2 separate regions of the Homo sapiens genome follow, and region 1 is linked to region 2. Evidence: fine-mapped expression QTL. Tissue or cell type: testis. Region 2 holds a variant in brackets; the other region holds the start of a gene. All regions are shown on one strand. Distances are from middle to middle.

The links. PIP is the estimated chance that this variant, and not a neighbour inherited with it, causes the effect. A credible set is the group of variants that fine-mapping cannot tell apart.
Region 1: it holds the start of LINC02652, and the variant in region 2 is the best candidate, but not a certain one, in a credible set for the expression of LINC02652 in testis (GTEx, PIP 0.88).

The regions. Positions count from the first base shown.
Region 1 is chr10:28,493,669-28,498,914 of GRCh38, reverse strand. It overlaps LINC02652 (long intergenic non-protein coding RNA 2652), which reads left to right and starts at 3,102. Exons shown (of 3, transcript NR_134496.1): 1 at 3,102-3,194. RefSeq lists an enhancer at 5,184-5,246.
Region 2 is chr10:28,416,285-28,421,530 of GRCh38, reverse strand. No RefSeq gene overlaps it. Among named protein-coding and RNA genes, the nearest start is that of LINC02652, 77 kb to the left of the region's middle. The variant C/T (reference allele first, on the strand shown) is at 2,795.

The DNA.
Region 1 (5,246 bases), 77 kb before region 2:
TATGTTTCCCTTCAGAAGAACCATGGGATTGCTGCATGATGCACCTAATTGTCCACACTTTTGGAAAACAAACTTGAAGAAAAATAAAGACAGCATTAAACTTATATATTTATGTGACTAGAATACCTCCTGCCTATGAAACTTGTTAGAGGATTAAATACATTTAAAGAAATAATCCAGAAATGCTTCTATGAAATTTACCAAATAGAGTGTTAAGTACCTGAAAAGAAATAAGACTGGGAGGCTGAGGCAGGTGGATCACTTGAGCCTAGGACTTTGAGACCAGCCTGGGCAACACGGCGAAACCCCATCTCTACAAAACAAAAACAAAAGCAAAAACAAAGTAAAAACTAGCCAGGCATGGGGGTGCACCCGTATTCCCAGCTACTGGAGGGGCTGAGGTGGGAGGATTGTTTGAGCCTGGGAGGCTGAGGCCACAGTGAGCTGTAATCACACCACTGTACATCAGACTGGGCGACAGAGTGAGATCATGTCTCAAAACAAAACAAAACAAAACATGATGGGTGCGGTGGCTCACGCCTGTAATCTCAGCACTTGGGGAGGCTGAGGCGGGTGGATCACCTGAGGTCGGGAGTTCGAGACCAGCCTGACCAACATGGAGAAATCCTGTCTCTACTAAAAATACAAAATTAGCCAGGTGTGGTGGCACATGCCTGTCACCCCAGCTACTCGGGAGGCTGAGGCAGGAGAATCACTTGAACCTAGGAGGCAGAGGTTGCAGTGAGCTGAGATCACGCCATTGCACTTCAGCCTGGGCAACAAGAGTGAAACTCCCTCTATTAAAAAAAAGAAAAAGAAATAAGATAGCAGAATCTTACTCTCCAAATCTGCTTTCTTTTTCTAATATGTACTTTAAAAAAATATGCAGTATTCCTCTTGGTAAAGCATTAACTTAGTGATTAGATTGTGCATGGCAGTGGCAGCCAGTGCATCATTAATCTTAGAGGACTGTTCACTCTCATCAGTTGTCAAAAGGTAATGAAGACTGAGAATTTCTCAGCCCTATTGATAACACATGAGTACAGGCTGATTTGTATTTATTCCATGATCCTATTTTAGTCCCTTTTGGATAATGGAATCCCAATGTGTTATCTGTCTTTTTCTTCCTTCCTTCCTTCCTTCCTTCCTTCCTTCCTTCCTTCCTTCCTTCCCTTCCTCCTTCCTTCCCTCCTTCCTTCTTTCCTTCCCTTCCTCCCTCTCTTTCTCTCTCTCTCCTTCTTCCTTCCTTTTCTATCTCTTTCTTCTTTCTTTCTTTCTTTTCTTTCTTTTTATTTCTCTTTCTTTCTTTCTTTCGTTCTTTCTTTCTTTCTCTCTCTCTTTCTCTCTCTCTGTCTCTCTTTCTCTCTCTCTCTTTCTCTTTCTTTCTTTCATCAGGATCTCACTCTATTGCCCAAGCTGGAGTGCAGTGATGCAATCATAGCTTACTGCAGCCTCAAACTCCAGGGCTCAAGCGAGCCTCCTATCTCAGCCTCCTGAGTAGCTGGTACTACAGGTGTGCACCACTACACCTAGCTATTTTTTAAAAAATTTTTGTAGAGACGGGGGTCTCACTATGTTGCCCAGGATGATCTTGAACTTCTGTCCTCAAGCAATCCACTTGCTTCGACCTGTCAAAGTGCTGGGATTATAGGCGTAAGCCACCACACCCAGCCCTGATTGGATTATTTCTTTTTAAAATATCTCTTATACTTTCAAGTAAATTGACATTTGTGAACTTTCTATTTCTATCATTTATTGTTATTATAGAAATTATCATCTTAAAGTTTGAACATGTAAACATCCAGCTTCTGGAGATTGTGGTCTACCTAATTCTGAACCCTGGGAGTTTGCATCTAGGGTTGCTTAACCCTATCTGTAAAGTAGGAAAGTTCCAGCTCAGACTCTGGAATAATTCACATCCTCTGTATGTGGTGGATAAGAAACAAGATCTTCAGCCCAACACTGGGTCATCTGATCCTGTTTCCCCAGTATATCCAGGAAGTTGATTCCTTATTTAGACTTCTGTGCCTGAGTCCTTGCCTTCCACCTTGGTACATCAGAAACCTGACTGTGGCTTTTCTTCCTATGCCTCACTGACCCCGTTCCCTGCAAATTGGACTCTCCTCTATCTCCCCAATTCCATCTAGCCTAGTGAATGAGTTGCTCCTCTGCACGTCACTTTCTGTGACCAAATTCCAACAGCTACTTTTAGACCTTTCTGGCATTATCTCCCCTTTCTTCTGGAGCTCTTCCAAAGGTCTGACATTTGGACATCTACCAGTCACCTGCCTTTGTTGACAAAAATGTGGTAGAGCTAGAATGCAAGACCAGATTTCATCACCTCCAAAGACTGCTTGTCTGCACCAGATCCAACCACTGTTTATATGGACATTTTGAAAAGGTTCCCCAGATGAAGGGCCAAGATAGTGGCTCACCCCTATAATCCCAGCACTTTGGGAGGCTGAGGCAAAAGGATCGCTTGAGGCCAGAAGTTCAAGATCACCCTGGACAACAAAGTGAGACCCTGCCTCTAAAAATAAAAGTAAATAATAAATGTTTACAAATGTTCCCCAAATGAGAGATTTAGCAGAGCAAGTTCTGCAAAGAAGGCCTCTTGCAAACACTGGCTTCCTAAACAGTCAACTCACTGGGGCAAGAGCCAACTCTCTTAATCTAGTTGATGTCAGCGTAACTGAACGCCTGTTAGTCGAGGTGAGACACTGTCCCCTAGCAGGGCTAGGGCATGGAGGTAAAGATGACCCATGATAAGGTGGCCTCATTTGGTAGCAAAGGCAAATTGAAGATTTCTTGATCCATAAATCAGTCTATAAAAAAAAAGTAAGACTTTGGACTAACAGTCACTAGATTTTGGATACCTGGGGGGTTTTTTGTTTTGTTTTTTGTTTTGTTTTGTTTTTGCCTGTTTGCAGGCATCCAACACTCCTCTCGAATCGGTGTCTTGCAGAAGCAGAAGAAAAGTAATACATCTATTGTTTTTGAAATGAAAGCAGGAATTATTTTGCTGCAGAGCTATAGCTTAACATTTTTAGCAAAATGTGGATCCTTCTTCTCAATCTTCATTTAGGATGCTGTGACTACAACCCTCTGTTTAGTTAGTGGAATTGAGAACAAGGCCCAGGTGGATGATTGAGGACTAAACCCCAAACTTGCCTTGGATCACTCCACTGTTTCAGGTAAGATCAGAGAGTAGTTAACTCTGAGTTATACAAATTGTTGTCTGCAGTAGCATGAGAATACAACTTTCAGATCTCCTACTGCAGGAAGCATAATTTATTTCCAGCCCTAGCTGCTGGTGTGCCCAGGATTGAGGCCACACTTCCTGTGGGCTGCTCCCAGTCAGTGACTGAGTATGGCAGGGATATCAAGGAGGCCCCTTCCTGGGAGGCAGGGGCTCCTCTAATGGGCAACTTAGGTTCACTGACTCCCTTTTGACCTTGCTGAAACTTTCTGAGAACTACAAGGCAGTCTATGGCCTGTCTTTCCTCCTTCCTCCCTCCCTCCCTCCCTTCCTTCCTTCCTTTCTTTCTCCCTCCCTCTTTTTCTCTTTTCCTCTTTCCGTCTCCAGTTTCTTCCATTCTTCCTTCCTTCCCTTCTCCTCCCTCCTCTCCCTTCTCTCTTCCTTCCTCCCTCCCTCACTTCCTTCCTTCCTTCCTTCCTTCTTTCCCTCCTTCCCTCTGTCTTCCCAGGGGGCAGACGTGTGTCATGATCTGATGGCTCTCCTATCACCCTCTTGTTTCCTTCTCATTATCCCTCCCCAGTGCCCCAGTATTTTCGCCAATTAATCTCTTATCCAGCTAATCCTTTTTTGGCATTTGCTTGTCAGAGAACCTGGACTAAATCATTATTTAACTAATTTGTTTTGCATGTGTAATTTAGGATCAAACATCACTTCTGAGTTCGGGGGCACATATCATTCTTTAGAAGGGGGAAGACCTAATGCTGAAAAACAAAAACAAAAACAAAAACAAAAACCCAATATGTGCATTCTATGGATCAACTGACTCTGTTGACCTAAACATGTAGAACAGTATTCCAGTTCTTAATACTTTAAAATCTCTAGAGCAAGGCCTTATAGCTTGGAAGAAAACCATTGGAAAGCCAAAAGGAAAGAAGTGGCACCAGCCAATTCTCCTCATTCTAGGCCCAGGGCAATGAACTTAGGGAGGAGGTCGTGCAAACTGGAAACCATAGCCTTGTTTCATGGCTTAACTGGGGGTGGTTAAGGCTCTGAGAGGCAGGTTGTCACCTCATTATCTATCCACCCATGCACACAATGAAGTCCATGGAGAGCTCACTGTATGACCAGCACTGGTGGGCCCTGAAGATAACAGAGGTTATCCTCAAGAAACTCAAGTCTATGGAGAAGATAGGCTTGGAAACAGACTAATGACACAATACAAGCCCTAAAACTGAGATGTGAACTGACTTGGGAAGTATGGTAAGGACACCTCCGACTGCTTGGCAGATGGAAAGGCATTTAAAGTGGAAACTGAAGGACAGAAGAGATGGTCAGACAGTGAAGAGAAGTGACACTAAGGAGCCCCATTCACAGAGAGCAAAATAGATACATCTACAGTCTTTTTCTTCTTTTTCTTTTTTTTCAGCCAGGGTCTCACTCTGTCACCCAGGCTGGAGTGCAGTGGCGCGATCTCAGCTCACTGCTGTCTCAACGTTCCAGGCTCAAGTGATCCTCCCACCTCAGCCTCCCAAGTAGCTGGTACCACAGGTGGATGCCACCATGCCCAGCTAATTTTTATCTTATTTTTGGTAGAGATGAGGTCTCCCTATGTTACCCAGGCTGGTCTCTGACTCCTGGCCCGAAGTGATCCTCCTGCCTCAGCCTCCCAAAGTGCTGAGATTACGGGTATGAGTCACTGTGCCTGGATTTTTTTTTTCTCACACAAAGAGAGAGGAATTAAGTTTCTTCTCTTAAGGGAGGCAGTATCAGAGGATTTGTGGATATATCTTTAAAAACATCATATTGTTTTGAAAGACTACCACTCTGAAACAGACATAATTAGCATAAATGTAGAAAAATGCACAAACTACTTGCTTCAAGTACTTGTCACAAACTACTTCAGTGGATAGACTTCATGCCAAGACTTATCTAGAAGGTAAGGACAGGTTTTTTTGTGTTGTTTTGTTTTGTTTATTTTTTTGAGACAGAGTCTCTGTCGCTCAGGCTGGAGTGCAGCGGCATGATCTTAGCTCACTGCAACCTGTGC
Region 2 (5,246 bases):
CACAAAATGGATCTGTTACACTGAGGACATGTGTTGATTGGACAGGACGAGCAAGAGGTGCTAACAGCAGGAGGCCTTGGCAGGACACATGTGCTCCATAGGGCAGGAGATCATCTTTATGAATATTCATGGAACTGCCACTTAGGTAAAGATTTTGGGTGTCCAGATTAAAAGACAAATTGCTGCATCTTGCATCTCACAAGAAGAAAGTACTAGCCCTGAAGGCCTCTTCCCATTCCACACCTGGGCACACAGCTCTAGTTCACATACTGAGTTACCTGAAAGGCTGGCAGCTTTGAGTGAATCCTGCAGCAAAAAGGGCTCTGCAGTGAGTCCAGGTGGCACTACAGGCAGTCCTGCCACTTGGCCCATTCAATATGGAAGACCTTGGAAAGGTCAGTGCTGGAAAGTTATGTCATGTGGAGCTTATGGCAAGCTCCAGAGGAAGAGTGCTTTTGTCTTTCTAGAATAATTCCTGGTGTGCTATGGGCCCCAGTCAAGGCAGCACTTTACCGTGGAGCATTACATGGCCATGAACACGAATATGCTCATTATGAGCTGGGTTCTCCTTCTTTTTTTTTTTTTTTTTTGAGATCAAGTCTTGCTCTGTCATCCAGGGTGCGATCTTGGCTCACTGCAATCTCTGCCTCCCAGATTCAGGTGGTTCTCATGCCTCAACCTCCTGAGTAGCTGGGATTACAGACGCCCGCACCACGCCCAGCTAAGTTTTATATTTTTAGTAGAGAAGGGGTTTCACCATGTTGGCGAGGCTGGTCTCAAACTCCTGACCTCAAGTGATCCTCCCTGCTCGGCCTCCCAAAGTGCTGAGATTACAGCTGTGAGCCATCATGCCCAGCCTGAGCTGGGTTCTCTTGAACCCACCAATCAGAGTCAGGGAGTCCCAGCCGCTGTCTATATGAAGACGGAAATGCAATGTCAGTGACTGAGCCTGAGCAGCACAGTAAGATGTGTGAGAAGCTAGCCCAGACTCCCCTTTTCTTTAGAGCTGTACCATCATCTCCCCCTCCAACTCACACATTTGGCCATAGAGGGCAAAGGAAGAGATGCTGAAAGAGGAGAAAAAGCCTGAACTCGGTTTATGGATAGATTAGCTTAGATTGTTTTGTGGGTGAAAGTTTAAAATGAATAGCAGATGCATTACAGTCACACTCAGGCGGAAATTTAAAAGACAGTGCTGAGTAATCCCAGCACTTTGGGAGGCTGAGGCTGAAGGATCACTTGACCCTGGGAGTTCAAGGCTGCAGTGAGCTATGACTGCACTGCTGCACTCCAGTGTGGGCAACAGATTGAGACCCTGTCTCAAGAAAAACAAACAAAAAATGAAAAAAGTGTTGAGAGAAAAATCTTTCCAATGGGTAGAACTTTGAGTATCACCTGATCATCCACTTTATGCAGAAAGAAAAGTAGCCCAAGGTGAGAATTTACGAGAGCTCGCGGGAATGGTGAATAGCCTGGTTGGTTTGCCAGCAGACTGAAACAGAAGGACTGAAAGATTGGAGACATGGAGGTCTAGGGTAGAGGCATGTGAAATGACATTCCCGGTGGGTGTGACAATTTTTGTATGCATCTTTGCTGCTCCTCCTGTCATAGATGAGGGTCTGTCTGCCCAACCCTTAAATCTAGGCTGAGCCATGTGACTTTGGCCAATGGAGCTACAGACAAAGGATACAAGCATAGGCTTCAAAAGTGCCTGAGCCTTGAGACTTGCCCTTCTTTGCTTCTAAGAATGCTTTGTCACTATGTGAAGAGCATAGCCTAGCCTCTTGGAGGATGTCAGCAGGTGGAGAGGGCCTCTGCCATCCCGCCTTTCCCAGTGGAAATCTCAGTGCATGAGTGAGCCCCACTGGTACAACACAGAACAGAAGCAAGTCTTCCTAGCTATGGCCCATCTCAATCACCGGTCCATAGAATCAAGATCAAATCAATGGTTGTTCAAAGCCATTATGTTTTGGGGTAGTTTATCATGCAGCAAAAGCAAACTGATAATGTAACTCTCTAGGCTTGGCTCTTAAAATATCAATAGGATGTGAAAAAACTCTCTTGACAAAGACAGGTTTCAGAAATTTGCTTCTGATTCAGAAATATCAGGTGTGAGCTTCTGAATTGATGAGCCTTTCTTCCATCAGACCTGCTCTCCCTTTCCTAGGATATTAAGCCCCATGTATATCAGCCTTAGGGATGGAAGTCTGCAAGGAAATACGGTTTAAGGAAGAAATTTAGGGAAAAACACATTTGCTTAATGTTTTTCGAAATATTATTATTCTCATTATTGAAATTGGCAGAAGACCAGGGAAACAGGTACTCTTATACACAGCTGATGGTAGAATAAATCATACAGACATTTTGGAACACAAATTGGCAGTATCAGCAACAATTGAGCATGAACCTACTGTTTGTTCAAGTGATTCCATTTCTTTATATCTGCTTTAGATGTGAAGAAACAACTATATAAAGAGGTCTAGACAGAGGTATTATTTGCAACATTTTAATAGCAAAAAGTTGGAAACAGGAAAATAGTAATGTAAATGATGGTATGTCTATATTGTGGAACATTGTGTTGCAATTAAGAGGAATGAGGTACTGGATAGAAAAGATATCCAAGATAAATTCTGAAATGAATATACCGGCTGGGCATGGTGGCTCAAGCCTGTAATCACAGCACTTTGGGCAGGCGGATCACTTGAGATTCAGGAGTTTGAGACCATCCTGGCCAACATGGCAAAACGTTGTCTCTATTAAAAATACAATAATTAGCTGGGCGTGGTGGCACACG[C/T]CTGTAATCCTAGCTACCTGGGAGACTGAGGCAGGAGAATCGCTTGAACCTGGGAGGCAGAGGTTGCAGTGAGCCGAGATCGCGCCATTGCACTCCAGCCTGGGTGACAGAGGGAGACTCTGTCTCAAAAAAATAAATAAATTAATTAAATGAATACAGTTCCTAGTTAAGGAAATACTAACCTCTATTATAGGTAAACATCAAAATCTCAAGGGCTTAACAATGGAAGTTTATTTTTTACTCATAAAATACAGTCTGCAGTAAAGGAGAGGGTAGATCCATTCCTTGCAGTCACTCAGGGCCTTGGGCTGTCATCTTCCAGTCACATTTTCTAAGGTCTTCCTGAGCATCTGCCTCTGGCCAGCAGATAGAGAAGAATGGAAGAATTCCTTGAGGGAGACTGTTAGGGGCCAATCCTAGAAGTGGCACTCATCATTTCTGCCTGTATTTCTTTGGCCCAAATCAGTCACATGAACATGTCTAATTTCAGGGTAGCTGGGAAATGTAGTCGAATTGTAAAGAAGCTGAAAGAGAAATGAATTTGATGAACAGCCACAAACACTGTTAGAACTCATTCCCACACATATACTGCAGGTTTCCATTGATACATACATGAACACCTCACAGATATTGCAGATGAGTTTCCCGACCACTCTAATAAAGCAAATATCACAATAAAGTGAATCACATGAATTTTTTGGTTTCTCAGTGCATATAAAAGTTATGTTTACACTATACTGTAGTCACTAAATGTGCAATAGCATTATGTCTAAAAAAGGTACACACTTTAATTAAAAATACTTTATTGCTAAAAAAAATGCCAATGATCATCTGAGCCTTCAGTGAGCTGTAATCTTTTTGCTGGTGGAGGGTCTTGCCAGGATGCTGATGGCTTCTGACTGATCAGGATGGTGGTTGTTGAAAGTTTGGGTGACTGTTTCTTAAAATAAAACAACAATAAAGTTTGTCACATTGATGGACTCTTCCTTTCATGAAAGATTTCTCTGTAGCATGTGATACTGTTTGATAGCATTTTACCCAGAGTAGAACTTCTTTTAAAATCAGAGTCAAGGCATCACATTACCTGATTTCAAATTAACAAAAACAGCCTGGTACTGGAATAAAAATAGACATATAGAACAATGGAACAGAATAGAGAACCCAGAAATAAAGGCATCTGTCTGTAACAAACTGATCTTCAACAAAGTCAACAAAAACATACGCTAGGGAAATGACACCCTATTGAATAAATAGTGCCAGGAAATTGGATAGCCACATGCAGAAGAATGAAACTGGACCTCTTCCTCTTACCATATACAAAAATTAACTCAAGGTAGGCTAAAGACCTAAATCAAGTTTGTCTAACCCCCAGCCTGTGGGCTTCATGTGGCCCAGGACAGCCTTGAATGTGGCCCAACACAAATTTGTAAACTTTCTTAAAACATTATAAGACTTTTTTTAGATTTTTTTTTTAACTCATCAACTATCGTTAGCGTTAGTGTATTTTATATGTGGCCCAAGACAATTCTTCTTCTTCTAACATGACCCAGGGAAACCAAAATATTGGATACCCCTGACCTGCATGTAAAACCTGAAACTATGAAAATCCTAGAAGAAAACCTAGGAAAGTCCCTCCTGAACACTGACCTGGGCAAAGAGTTTATGACCAAGTCTTCCAAAGGAAATGCAACAAAAACAAAAATAGACAAATGAAACTTAATTAAACTAAAGAGCTTCTGCAAAAGAAACAATCAACAGAGTAAACAGACAACCTATAGAATGGGAGAAAATATTTGCAAACTATGCATCTGAGAAAGAATCTACAAGAAATTCAGCTCAACAAGAAACAAGTAAATAACTCCATTAAAAAGTGGGCAAAGGACATGAACAGCCATTTTTCAAAAGACATACAAGTGGCCAATAAATATATGAAAAAATGCTCAGGATAACTAATCATCAGAGAAATGCAAATTAAAAACATAGTGAGATATCATCTTACACTAGTCATAATGGCTATTATTAAAAAGTCTAAGTCCGGGCGCAGTGGCTCACGCCTGTAATCCCAGCACTTTGGGAGGCCGAGGCAGGTGGATCACAAGGTCAGGAGATCGAGACTATCCTGGCTAACATGGTGAAACCCTGGCTTTACTAAAAATACAAAAAAAAAAAAAAAAATTAGCCGGGTGTGGTGGTGGGCGCCTGTAGTCCCAGCTACTTGGGAGGCTGAGGCAGGAGAATGGCGTGAACCTGAGAGGCGGAGCTTGCAGTGAGCCGAGATTGCGCCACTGCTCTCTAGTCTGGGCGACACAGCAAGACTCCGTCTGAAAAAAAGAAAAGTCTAAAAACAAGCCAGGAACAGTGGCTCCTGCCTGTAATCCCAGCATTTTGGGAGGCTGAAGCAGCAGGCTTTCTCTTGAAGCCAGGAGTTTGAGACCAGCCTGACCAACATTGC